Linked DNA regions of Homo sapiens. The protein of the gene in region 3 interacts with the protein of the main gene of each other region in a pairwise test. Each region holds a gene or a part of one and is shown on either strand. Other genes may lie near its edges.

Region 1 (3,727 bases), on a different chromosome or scaffold from region 3:
CAGCATCCAGCACTTGGCCTTCCAGAGGCATTGACTCAGTTTCTTTCCTGCTACAGAATGGAGCCCTGGCACCAAGGAGCCAAAAAAGGGTCAAGGGAGCCTCTTTCTCAGCCAGTGGCCCCAGAGCCAGAAGGACGCCTGTGGTGAGGAGGGTTGCTGTGACGCAGTGGGCACCGCATCACTGACCCTGCCGCCCAAGAAACCTACATGTCCAGCCGAGAAGAACTTGCTCTATGAGTTCCTTGGGGCCACCAAGAACCCAAGCGGGCAGCCGAGACTTCGAAACAAAGTGGAAGTGGATGGGCCGGAGCTGAAATGTGAGCTGACCTACCCAGGGAGGGATTGGAGGGGAGGGGGTTGCAGTGACCCTCACAGGCTTCAGGGTGGCTCTGTCACCAAGTGGCTGTCTTATCTACTGCCTTTCTAGAGGTGTCAGTTTTTAAACCCATAAAATGGGGGCAATGACTTTCTCCCCATATCCCTTGTTGGGAATACAGTTGCTAGAGAAGTGTAGTTGGCTTTCAAGGGTCACGTCAGCATTATTAATGGTCACTTCTGAATATAGCCCTGACCCAGCATGTATTATATCCTCTCAAATTGCCCAAGCCAAAACAAAAGATCCTTGCTTTAGATTATTTCTATATTGAGATTATGTTCCCGCTTTCTTTTCCTACAAGGGTTCTAGTCAAACCTCTTTTCCCAAAAGGATGCCAATAAGGGGAAACTGAGGACCCATTTCTGATTTTATAAGCCCCCACAACATCTTGTAGAAAGGAAGAATCCAGGATTCTGATCTTGAAACAACTCAACCTAACTTCATTTGTTTAGACCAATTTTGAGTCACTGCATGCTGAATTATTTAATGTTTTAAAATATAATTTTTAAAATTCCCATATAGATACAACAACCTGTGAAAGTTTCTTAGTGTTGCCAAATATATGTCCTTAGGGAGGGGCTGCTTTAATCATTTGATAAGGATGAATTCCAATGGCATAGCAATGGTTCACATAAAGTTGGATTTTTCCAAAGCAGTTGAAAGAATTTCATTTTGTAAGTAGGTGAAATATAGGCCTAGCAATCTGGCTTATTGTATTCCCTTGCTAAATTGCCTTCTTTACTAGTGAATGATGGAAAGAAAAGCTCCAAGCCAGACCTTCTGGGATTTTCATCCCTTCCAAACTGGCAAGGTGTGAACTAATGATGTTTACCTATAGTTGGAAATGTACTAGAACTTTGAAGAACCCTCTTGGAGCTTAAAGGACCTGACCTGTGAGACTGTGAATCCCTAAGGAAGTTGCGATGCTGAAGGTGTCCTGGCCTCTCCCTGCCTCCATCACTGACCCGCTTTGCCTCTCCTGTGACTTGCAGTTAACGCACCTGTGACGGTTGCTGACAAGAACAACCCGAAGTACACAGGGAATGTTTTCACTCCACACTTTCCTACAGCCATGACCTCAGCAACCCTGAACCAGCCACTCTGGCTCAACCTGAACTATCCACCTCCACCAGTGTTCACGAATCACTCTACCTTCTTGCAGTATCAGGTCAGTGAGCTGGCCTGGCTCTCCTGTGGACATCCACGGGGGTTTTGGCCACAGAGAAGGAGTGGCTGGCAGGGGGTCTATTTCACAGAGTCTTTAGACTCCTCTGAATCCCTTCCCTACATGCAAGAGGCTTCGCTGGGGCTATGGAAGGGCGCTGTCAACTTGTCAGCTTGTTGGTTATTTTTTTCATTGTAGTCACATCAGATCTACCCCTTGGTTCATGTGCATGCGTGCGCACACCTCCACACACACACACATATGTATATTTAGTCCTAACTTTCCATTGTCCGAATTCCAGTTCACACTGTGCTCTTTATTGCAGAGTCTCTTTGCTAGTTGTGGCTGGTTAAGTGCTTGGGCTCCCAGGAGAAGATGATGTCACAGTCCTTGTTTCCCACCTCTCTCCTGTGACTTCCTTTGAAGTTGGATGACATATATCCCAGATTATTTGGGACAGTCCCAATTTAGGTCTTCTGTTCCAGAATAATATGAATGGCATCCCTTTTCACTCTCAAGTGTCCTGGTTTGGACAACAAATTACAGTCAGCCCTCTGTATCCATGGGTTCCAAATCCACAGATTCAACCAATCTTGGATGGAAACTACTTGAAGAAGAAAACAACAACAACAACAACAAAATACAACAACAAAAAATAATGCGAGTAAAAGATAATACAGTATAATAACTATTTACATAGTACATTATTAGGCGTTGTTAGTAATCTAGAGATTAAAGGATACAGGAGCATGCGCATAAGCTACATGCAAATACTATGCCATTTTATATTAGGGACTTGAGCATCCTCATATGCCATTTTATATCAGGCACTTGAACATCTTTATATGTCATTGTATATCAGGGACTAGATCATCCTCATATGCCATTTTATTTTATTTGAGACAGAGTCTCACTCTATCGCCCAGGCTGGAGTGCAGTGGCATGACCTTGGCTCACTGCAACCTCTGCATCCCAGGTTGAAGCGATTCTCCTACCTCAGCCTCCCAAGTAGCTGGGATTACTGGTATGTGCGCTAATTTTTGTATTTTTAGTAGAGACTGGGTTTCACCATGTTGGCCAGGCTGGTCTTGAACTCCCCGCCTCATGTGATCCACCTGCTTCCACCTCCCAAAGAGCTGGGAGTACAGGGGTGAGCCACCGCACCCGGCCCTCAAATGCCATTTTATATCAGAGACTTGAGCATCTTTGTATGTCATTTTATATCAGGGACTTGAGCATCCTCAGATTTTGGTATCCACAGGGCAGGGGAGGGAGGGTGGTCTTGGAACCAATCCTCTGAGGATACCGTGGAATGAGTGTATATGGCCACCTTACTTAAACTACACCAAGCAGTCTTAGCTTTGTACCAACCAAGGTGGCTTGGCACACATTCTTGTTCTTGGGATCATAGCTAAAGGAGAAAATCAATGGCCAGACACAAAGGGACAGTGAAGCACCTGTAGCAGGGCTGGAAATTCTACTCACAGAACTTATTTATGCAGGGAAAATGTAGTTTCTTTATTTTGTCGATTTAACTTAATATCCCTTAAGAGCTGCCGCCCACTGGGTAGAAGGAGGGAAAAATTAAATAAATGTCCACTCTGGTTTAAGCCTTAGCCCAATCCAATAACTTAAATAGTCCCTTTAGGTAGAACTCAATTTTTTCAGGAAAGATTCTCCATGCCTAAGATTTCTGTCTTCTGTTCCTCGCACTGGCTTCTCTCCAGAATTGTATGTCATTGTATGGGGAAGGGCAGGAACTCAAATTTGTGCACTCAGGACCTTGGCAATTTGCTGCCCCAGCCTGGCCCAGCACAGCCTGAAGTGAGAAAGCAAAGAAGGAAATACTTCCAACTCGGCTTGTCCTGTTGCTATGTCCCTTCCCCGCTCTCCACTCCTAGGAACCCTATGTCATTCTTTCCCTTTCAACACAGCACAAACCTTATGTCCTATTGGGAAAGGGGATTGGCTCTTCTGCATATAAAGACTCTTCAAGCTGGTCCACCAGGCTTAGTTTCTGAATCTTAAAGGAACTTAGCAAAGTCTCTCTCTGTTTTGTTTTCAAGCTTTTTGTTTGTGTGTGTGTTTGCTAAAGAGAACAAGTACCCGTCCCCTCCCGAGGGAGGGAAAGCTCACACCCCATTGTGGAGGTGAGAGGTTGTGATGAAAGGTGACCTAAGAAGGAA
Region 2 (3,674 bases), on a different chromosome or scaffold from region 3:
AAAGACAATGACGAGCGCAGAGCTTAAATTCCCAGCTCAGGGGGCAGGTGAGGAACCAGAAATCTTCTGAGCTGTGCAGGGAAGGGCGACGAGCAGGCCTGGGTCCTCACCTCGGCACCTGGATTTCAGAGGGGCCACTGCCCCTAAGCTCTATGTGCCAACAAATGGTTGTGCTAAGCACCTGCTTCCTCCTGGGGGTCGGAGATCTGCACATGCACGAGTCAGAGGGGGCTGCACGACCAGCCCTGGGCTCTGAGGTTCTGAAGGGCTCCCCTCATGGGGAGATTCCACAGGTGTCACCACAACGTGGTGCTGGGGAATGGAGAGCATCCCGTGGGGTCCTCGAGAGGATGCTGAGTCCCACGAGTCCTCCTAGGGCATCTTCCTAGTGAATCATTGACCTGGGTGCTCTTGGTGACCCCGAATACAACTGCCCTGAAAGAATCCATTGCCTCCTGTAGCCACAGGCTCCAGATTTCTGAAAAGGAAACCCAAAATCTAATCCGTGGATGGCTGCCTTACCATCTGAATTAAATTAACCACCTCTCTGGGTATCTTTGGTTAAATGTATGGCATTGTGTGGGGAAAAATGAGCCCTTAATCATTTGGATGGGGACATGTGAGCAGACTGTGATGAACTCCAGAACCATGGGACACATGGGTGAGGAGCTTCCCAGAGTCCTTAAACAGCCCCCAGGGTGACCAGGAATGACAGGGGAGACCGCCACAGCAAATTCGGCCCCTGATTCAGTGGGGTGGCGGGACCCCAAGGAGCAGGACCAGGAGGAGGCTCTATGTACTGGAAAGACAGGTCAGCATAGGAACCGATGTGGTCAGTGGGGCAGCTGTGTAGTCAGAATGGCCCTGCCCACAGAGACCCTTGGTGCTGGCTGCTGGTGTCCCAGGGTGGGGACAGCCTCCTGCCCACCTACAGACTGACACTTTGGATCGCAGGGAAGCTCCCACCTGGAGATGGAAGTCCATCTTGACCCCACACTTTCTGCTGGGGCTCTGCTCAGTGGACGTCCTGCAGGCAGGTCCCGCTGACGGGGGCTCCTCCTGCCTGCTGGTTTAAGTGGAAGCAGCGCTGGAATTATTCAGCTCCTCCTCACGAGGGAGGAAATCTCAGCCAGCCCCGGTATTGGACGTAGGATCGCTCCTTGCGGAGAGTAAACTGGGTTTGTTTCAAGTACCAATGCTGAATTCAGTCCTAACAATTTCAGAAATGGCCGAGCCAAGATGTTTTTCTCTCAGTTTGAACTTTGGATCAGATTCCCAGAAATTGACACTCTGATTGTGCCTGCCAGCAGGGCGACAGGAGCCCACAGTCCTCCGGTGGGGATGAAATATTCAGTTTGACTGTTCAGGCAGGTGACGTGTCCTTCCTCATCTGCAGCCCTTCTATAAAGAGGACTCTTGAGCTGGCAGCAGAGCCCATCCAGGCAGCACGGCTGGCTGAGCAGAGACAAGGTAAGCTCTGGAGAGGCCAGGCAGAGTGGAGGGGGGTGCAATTTCTTAAGTCATGGGAATTAAGGCCAATTGAGGCAGGGATTTCACCTCCAAATAGTGGTTTGAAACCACTGAAATGGAAATTGCTAGGAAAACAGTAAGAATTTTTTTTTTAAATCCATGCCATTTTCCCCAGGGCTGCCCACACTGGGACTGGTAGAGGAAGCCGGCCCTGACGGATGGGTGGTCTCGCCCTTCCTGGGTTCATCCTGCTGCAGGTGGGCCTGAGTCGCAGATCAGGAAGCACCGGGAAGATGCAGGCCTGCATGGTGCCGGGGCTGGCCCTCTGCCTCCTACTGGGGCCTCTTGCAGGTGAGGGGCCGCTCTGGAGGGAGGCAGCCACCAGGACCCCCGACAGCCCTCCTGTTCTCTCCCCTCCCGCATGCATCCCCAGGCTGCTAGGAAACCTTAGAGCCCTGCAGCTGGTGTCGGGTGGGCCCAACCGGCACCTGGGTGGTCCTCCTGGGTGACAGCTCTTCTCTTCCTTTGCAGGGGCCAAGCCTGTGCAGGAGGAAGGAGGTACCGTTCTCCAATTTCTTTCCTTTCATTTGCATAAGTAACTGGTATGCAGCGGGGAGAAACTGCTGGGGAGAGCAGCAGCTTCTTATCCCAAGCAGACGCATCAGGGGCCCTGGCTCAGCTCAGGCCCAAGCATGGAAAACATGGCCCTTGAGAGCCAGCTTGGAGCTGTGCAAGCAGAGGGTCTATGAGCTCCTTCCAGCTGGGACCCTGCCCTCCAGCCACCAGGGAACACACTGGGCAGGGGGAGCCAGGGCCCCATGACCCCTGACATTCCCACTATCAGACCTGGGTTCCAGCCCCCAGGCCCTCCCAACTCTGAGCCCTAGCTCAGTCCAGTATCTTCAGGGCTGCTCTTGCCCAAGCTTTAGGACAGGTTATACGGGGGGTAGCGGAGTGGGGTGTCTGTGCTCTGTTCTGAAATCCCAGCAGGTGGCTGCTGGTGCCCCACACCCTCCCCACACAACTCCTTCCTCAAACAGGACAGGGCTTCCCTCCCTCTCTTCCCCTTCTTCTTCTTCCTCTGTCTCCCCGACCAGATATCCCCAAGGATCTGAGAGGGGATGGGCTCAGGCCCCCACTCTGGGAAGGTTGTATCACTGTAGGTAGAGCTGGGAACCATCCACTTGCCTTGAGACCTCTGAGGATGGTGTCTCCAGGCAGGACCATGGGGACAGCCCCCAAGGCAGGTGTCTTGTGTCTTTCAGACCCTTACGCGGAGCTGCCGGCCATGCCCTACTGGCCTTTCTCCACCTCTGACTTCTGGAACTATGTGCAGCACTTCCAGGCCCTGGGGGCCTACCCCCAGATCGAGGACATGGCCCGAACCTTCTTTGCCCACTTCCCCCTGGGGAGCACGCTGGGCTTCCACGTTCCCTATCAGGAGGACTGAATGGTGTCCAGCCTGGTGCCCGCCCACCCCGCCAGGCTGCACTCGGTCGGGCCTCCACAGGCATGGAGTCCCCGCAAAAACCTGGCCCCTGCAGGAGTCAGGCCTGGTCTCACGCTCAATAAACTCCGGACTGAAGATGCACAACCAGCGTTGTGGGTTGTCTTTCAAGGACAGCTGCGCTCAGGCCCCACTTACTTTATTTCACAAATGAAGCTGGTTTTATTTTGATTCCTGGGGAGCACTTTCATAAACTCTTTCATAAATGTGCAACATTTCCATCCACATTGGCATCAACAAGGGATTTTATATCCTGGGCAGGCTCAGGACTGGCTTTCTGTGTCTCTCACTCATCCATTTCCCACAATGATCCTAGGGGGCACTGCAGTTCCCCCAGATTACGGGTGAGGAAACTGAGGCAGAGACATGCGGTCACAGCCTGACTTGTTAAGGTCACACAGCTGGTTAGGGGGTAGCTAGATTCTAGTCCAGGCACCCCCGCTCTGGGCCACTAAGCTGGGCAGCACACAAACCCACAGTCAGGGCTAGGCTGACTCCACACCATGACACACCCCTGGGAGCAGTGCCCAGGAGGCAGCAGGAAACGGAACTGAGAAACCCCACCTGTATCTGTCATCGGTCAGGGACAGCGGGGCCTGGGCAGGCTCTGTCTTCCAGGGACGGCTCTAGGCTTTGAGGATGCTGGGAGGAAGGGGGCTTCACCTGGGGCACTGGAAGACTGGGCAGGCAGCACGAT
Region 3 (3,224 bases):
TTCTATTGCTATGTATCAAACAACCCTAGAACTATGACAATGCTTTCCGATTTCTCATGGCTGGGCTCAGCTGGGCAGCTCTTCTGCTCCACATGGTGTAGCTGGAGTTACTTGTGTGTTATGTTTAGCTGGGAGCTCAACTGAGGCTAGAATGTCCAAGGCCTGTCAGCCTTTGAGCTCTGTCCCTGTGATTTGTTGTCATTCACTAGTCTAGCTGAGCTTCTTTATAGAATAGCAGCTGAGTTCCAAGGGGGAGTTTTTAGAGGACAAGCCCCAGTGTGAAAGTGCCTATAAAGCCTCTGCTTGCATCACTTTTGCTAATGTCCCATTGGCCAAAGCCACTCACATGGATAAGCCCAGTGTCAATGTGGGAGGACCCTACTCAAGGGCATGAATCCTTGAGGTGTAGCCCACTGGGGGCGACTGATATGACAGTACACCACACAGTCCAGTCACCTTGCCAGATGGTGAGCACCTTGAGGAAGGAGCTGTGTTGGTCTTGTCCTCCTCTCCATCCCCAGCACCAGCATAGTGCCTGATCTACCAGGGCTACAGTGGATATTCAGTTAATATTTGTGAGATAAATAAACCTTATTTTATTATGAGTAATAATGGCAAATGAGAGCCATTATCTTTATTTATTTATTTACTTACTTATTTATTCTGGGGACAGAATCTTGCTCTGTCGCCTAGGCTGGAGTACAGTGATGTGATCACAGCTCACTGCAGCCTCAACCTCCCAGGCTCAAGTGATCCTCCCACCTCAGCCTCCCTCATAGCTGGGACTACAGGCATGCACCACCATGCCCAGCTAATTTTTGTATTTTTGGTAGAGATGGAGTTTTCCCATGTTTACCAGGCTGGTCTCAAACTCCTGGGCTCAAGTGGTCTGCCCACCTCAGCCTCCTAAAGTGCTGGGATTATAGGCGTGAGCTACTGCACCTGGCCTATTATCATTGTAGGTTTCCTGTATACAGATGCTGTGCTAAGAGCTTTTTCTGGATTATCCCATTTAATCATCCCAACAGGCCCAGGAGTTGGAGCTTCTACTTTCCCTGTATCACTGATGAAGCAGCTGAGGCTCAGAGAGGTTACATAACTTACCCAAGGTCACCCAGCTGATGAAGGGTGGAGTCAGAATCTGTACTCAGGTCTATCTGGCTCCAGAGCCCAGGCTCTTAACCCCATCATTGCTGCCTTGCAGATGAGGAAACTCAAGTCTGGGAGCAATGACTTGGTTTGGTCTAAGCTGGGAGGTCCCAGGCAATGTCTTGGCCCCACTCATGGGGTGGTTGCAAGACCAAGACAGGGGTGAAAAATGTGAGGATATAAAGCCTCACATTTAGAGGGAAAGGTAGACACAATGTGATACCCAAGGATTTGGGTAGGACCCTGCTCAGGAAGCATGGACTCAATGCAGGAGAGGAAAAAAGGCCCAGGAGCCCTAATCAGTCCTAGGCCTCAGTTTTCTCACCTGTGGAATGGAGCAGTGCCTTTCTGCCTTTGGAAGTGACAAGGTGCCCCTTGCCTCTGCAGACAGTGGGTGAGTCTCTGCTCTACATGCTGGAGAAGTGTCTGGGCCCTGCCTTCACACCAGCCACACGGGCTGCCTGGAGCCAACTCTACGGGGCCGTAGTGCAGGCCATGAGTCGAGGCTGGGATGGCGAGTAAGAGGCGACCCCGCCCGGCAGCCCCCATCCATCTGTGTCTGTCTGTTGGCCTGTATCTGTTGTAGCCCAGGCTCCCCAAGCTTCCCTGCATCTTGGTCCTTGTCCCCTTGGCCACACTGGAGAGGTGATGGGGCAGGGCTGGGTCTCAGTATCCTAGAGTCCAGCTGCAGAAGGAGTGGCTTTTCCTCCAGGAAGGGGCTTCTGGGTGTCCCCTCATCCCCAGTAGCCTCTTTCTTGCGTTTCTTTTTACCTTTTTTGGCACTCCCTCTGACCCCGCGATGAGTGTTTTGGTGGCAGAGGTGGGATGAGCTGGAAAGGTATGGAGGTGGGAGAGGATGGGGCTCTTCTGTCTGTCCTGCTTCTTCAGGTGAGTGCAGGCCAAGGCGGGGGTGAGATGGCTGAGCTTCCAGCGCCTTCTGTCCTGCCTGCCCAGTCCCTTCACTGCTTTCCTGCCCCAAGATGGCTTGCTTTTCACAAATAAAGAGAAAGAGCAGCTTTAGCCTTCTTGGTGGAATCCCAGGCAGTGGGAGCAGAATCAGAACTGCCAGGGAAGGGAAGGGGGACCTGGGTCTCAATGGGTCTCATTTGAGTCTCGCGGGCTGTGCAGATGCCCTGACAGAGTCGGTTTCCTTTGGCGGCATTCCCTTTCCCTCATTCAGCACTTCTGCTGGGAACTCCCTGACTATTCCGCTGCTGCAGGAACCCAGCTAGCTGGCCAGGTGGGGAGGGGCTGGGGACCGGCCAGGAAGGAGGGGTGACTTCATCCCAGAGAGACCCGAGTTCCCCCAGCCCTTCATCACCAACCCGCTCCTGCAGGAGTGAGTCTTACCTCCCCTGGCCCTCCTTTCTGGCTCAGCCTGCAGCGACTGTGAGGCCACAGCTCCTCAGATTCACTGCCCGCTGTGTGCCAGTACTCAGGCAGCTGGAGAGAAGAGAAGGCAGCAGCAGAGGCCCCCGCCCTCACCCCAGCCATCTGCACTTGTACCATTTGCTCTGTGCTGACTGTGGTCCTATAAATTCATGAGAAATAAACTGGTTCTGTGTGCCTCTCTGACCCTCGGGCCTGATCTTTTCTTGGGTCTTGGCCTGTGCCAGATGAAGCTGCAGGGCAGTGGATCTCAGGACAGGATGGGAGGATGGAGTCAGGGAGGCCAAGGCTGGAGTGGGTGGAACAGGAGGGAGGGGCCTGGGAGGAAGCTCTGGGAAGCCAGTGGCAGACATCTGTGGGGTCTGTGGCCCAAACTGGCTGGCAGACCACAAACCAGCTCTTCTTCCTCCTGGGCACACAGCTGGATGTCATGCAGCCACCCTTGCAATTAGGTGGGGCATGTGACTGGGCTCTGGCCGCTGGACCGTGCAGATGTGTGTGCCACTCCGAGGCCTGGTCCCCCAAAACTCCTGCATGCTCCTCCATGCTCTGTCATCCTTCTGCTGGTGTGATACAGACCTCACAGAGACCATGAGGGCCACGTGTTGAACATGGCAGAGCCACAGGTGAAAGGAGTCCTGACCCTGAATCGCTGCTTGGAGGAAGGTGCCTATTAATCAGAATCA

What was found.
Region 1: the proteins of NGB (region 3) and C1orf94 interact in binary tests that used the Homo sapiens proteins (3 or more experiments, as listed by UniProt).
Region 2: the proteins of NGB (region 3) and OTOS interact in a two-hybrid assay, tested with the Homo sapiens proteins (one large-scale study listed by BioGRID).

What each region holds. Positions count from the first base shown.
Region 1 is NC_000001.11:34,200,716-34,204,442, forward strand, and holds part of C1orf94 (uncharacterized protein C1orf94), read left to right. Parts: intron 1-56; coding exon 57-317; intron 318-1,368; coding exon 1,369-1,544; intron 1,545-3,727.
Region 2 is NC_000002.12:240,138,416-240,142,089, reverse strand, and holds OTOS (otospiralin precursor), read left to right. Parts: upstream 1-1,431; 5' UTR 1,432-1,470; exon of another isoform or gene 1,471-1,585; coding exon of another isoform or gene 1,586-1,606; intron 1,607-1,645; 5' UTR 1,646-1,727; coding exon of another isoform or gene 1,728-1,763; coding exon 1,764-1,821; intron 1,822-2,001; coding exon 2,002-2,028; intron 2,029-2,735; coding exon 2,736-2,920; 3' UTR 2,921-3,064; downstream 3,065-3,674. UniProt on the Homo sapiens protein: May be essential for the survival of the neurosensory epithelium of the inner ear.
Region 3 is NC_000014.9:77,264,983-77,268,206, reverse strand, and holds the end of NGB (neuroglobin), read left to right. Parts: intron 1-1,536; coding exon 1,537-1,671; 3' UTR 1,672-2,724; downstream 2,725-3,224. UniProt on the Homo sapiens protein: Monomeric globin with a bis-histidyl six-coordinate heme-iron atom through which it can bind dioxygen, carbon monoxide and nitric oxide.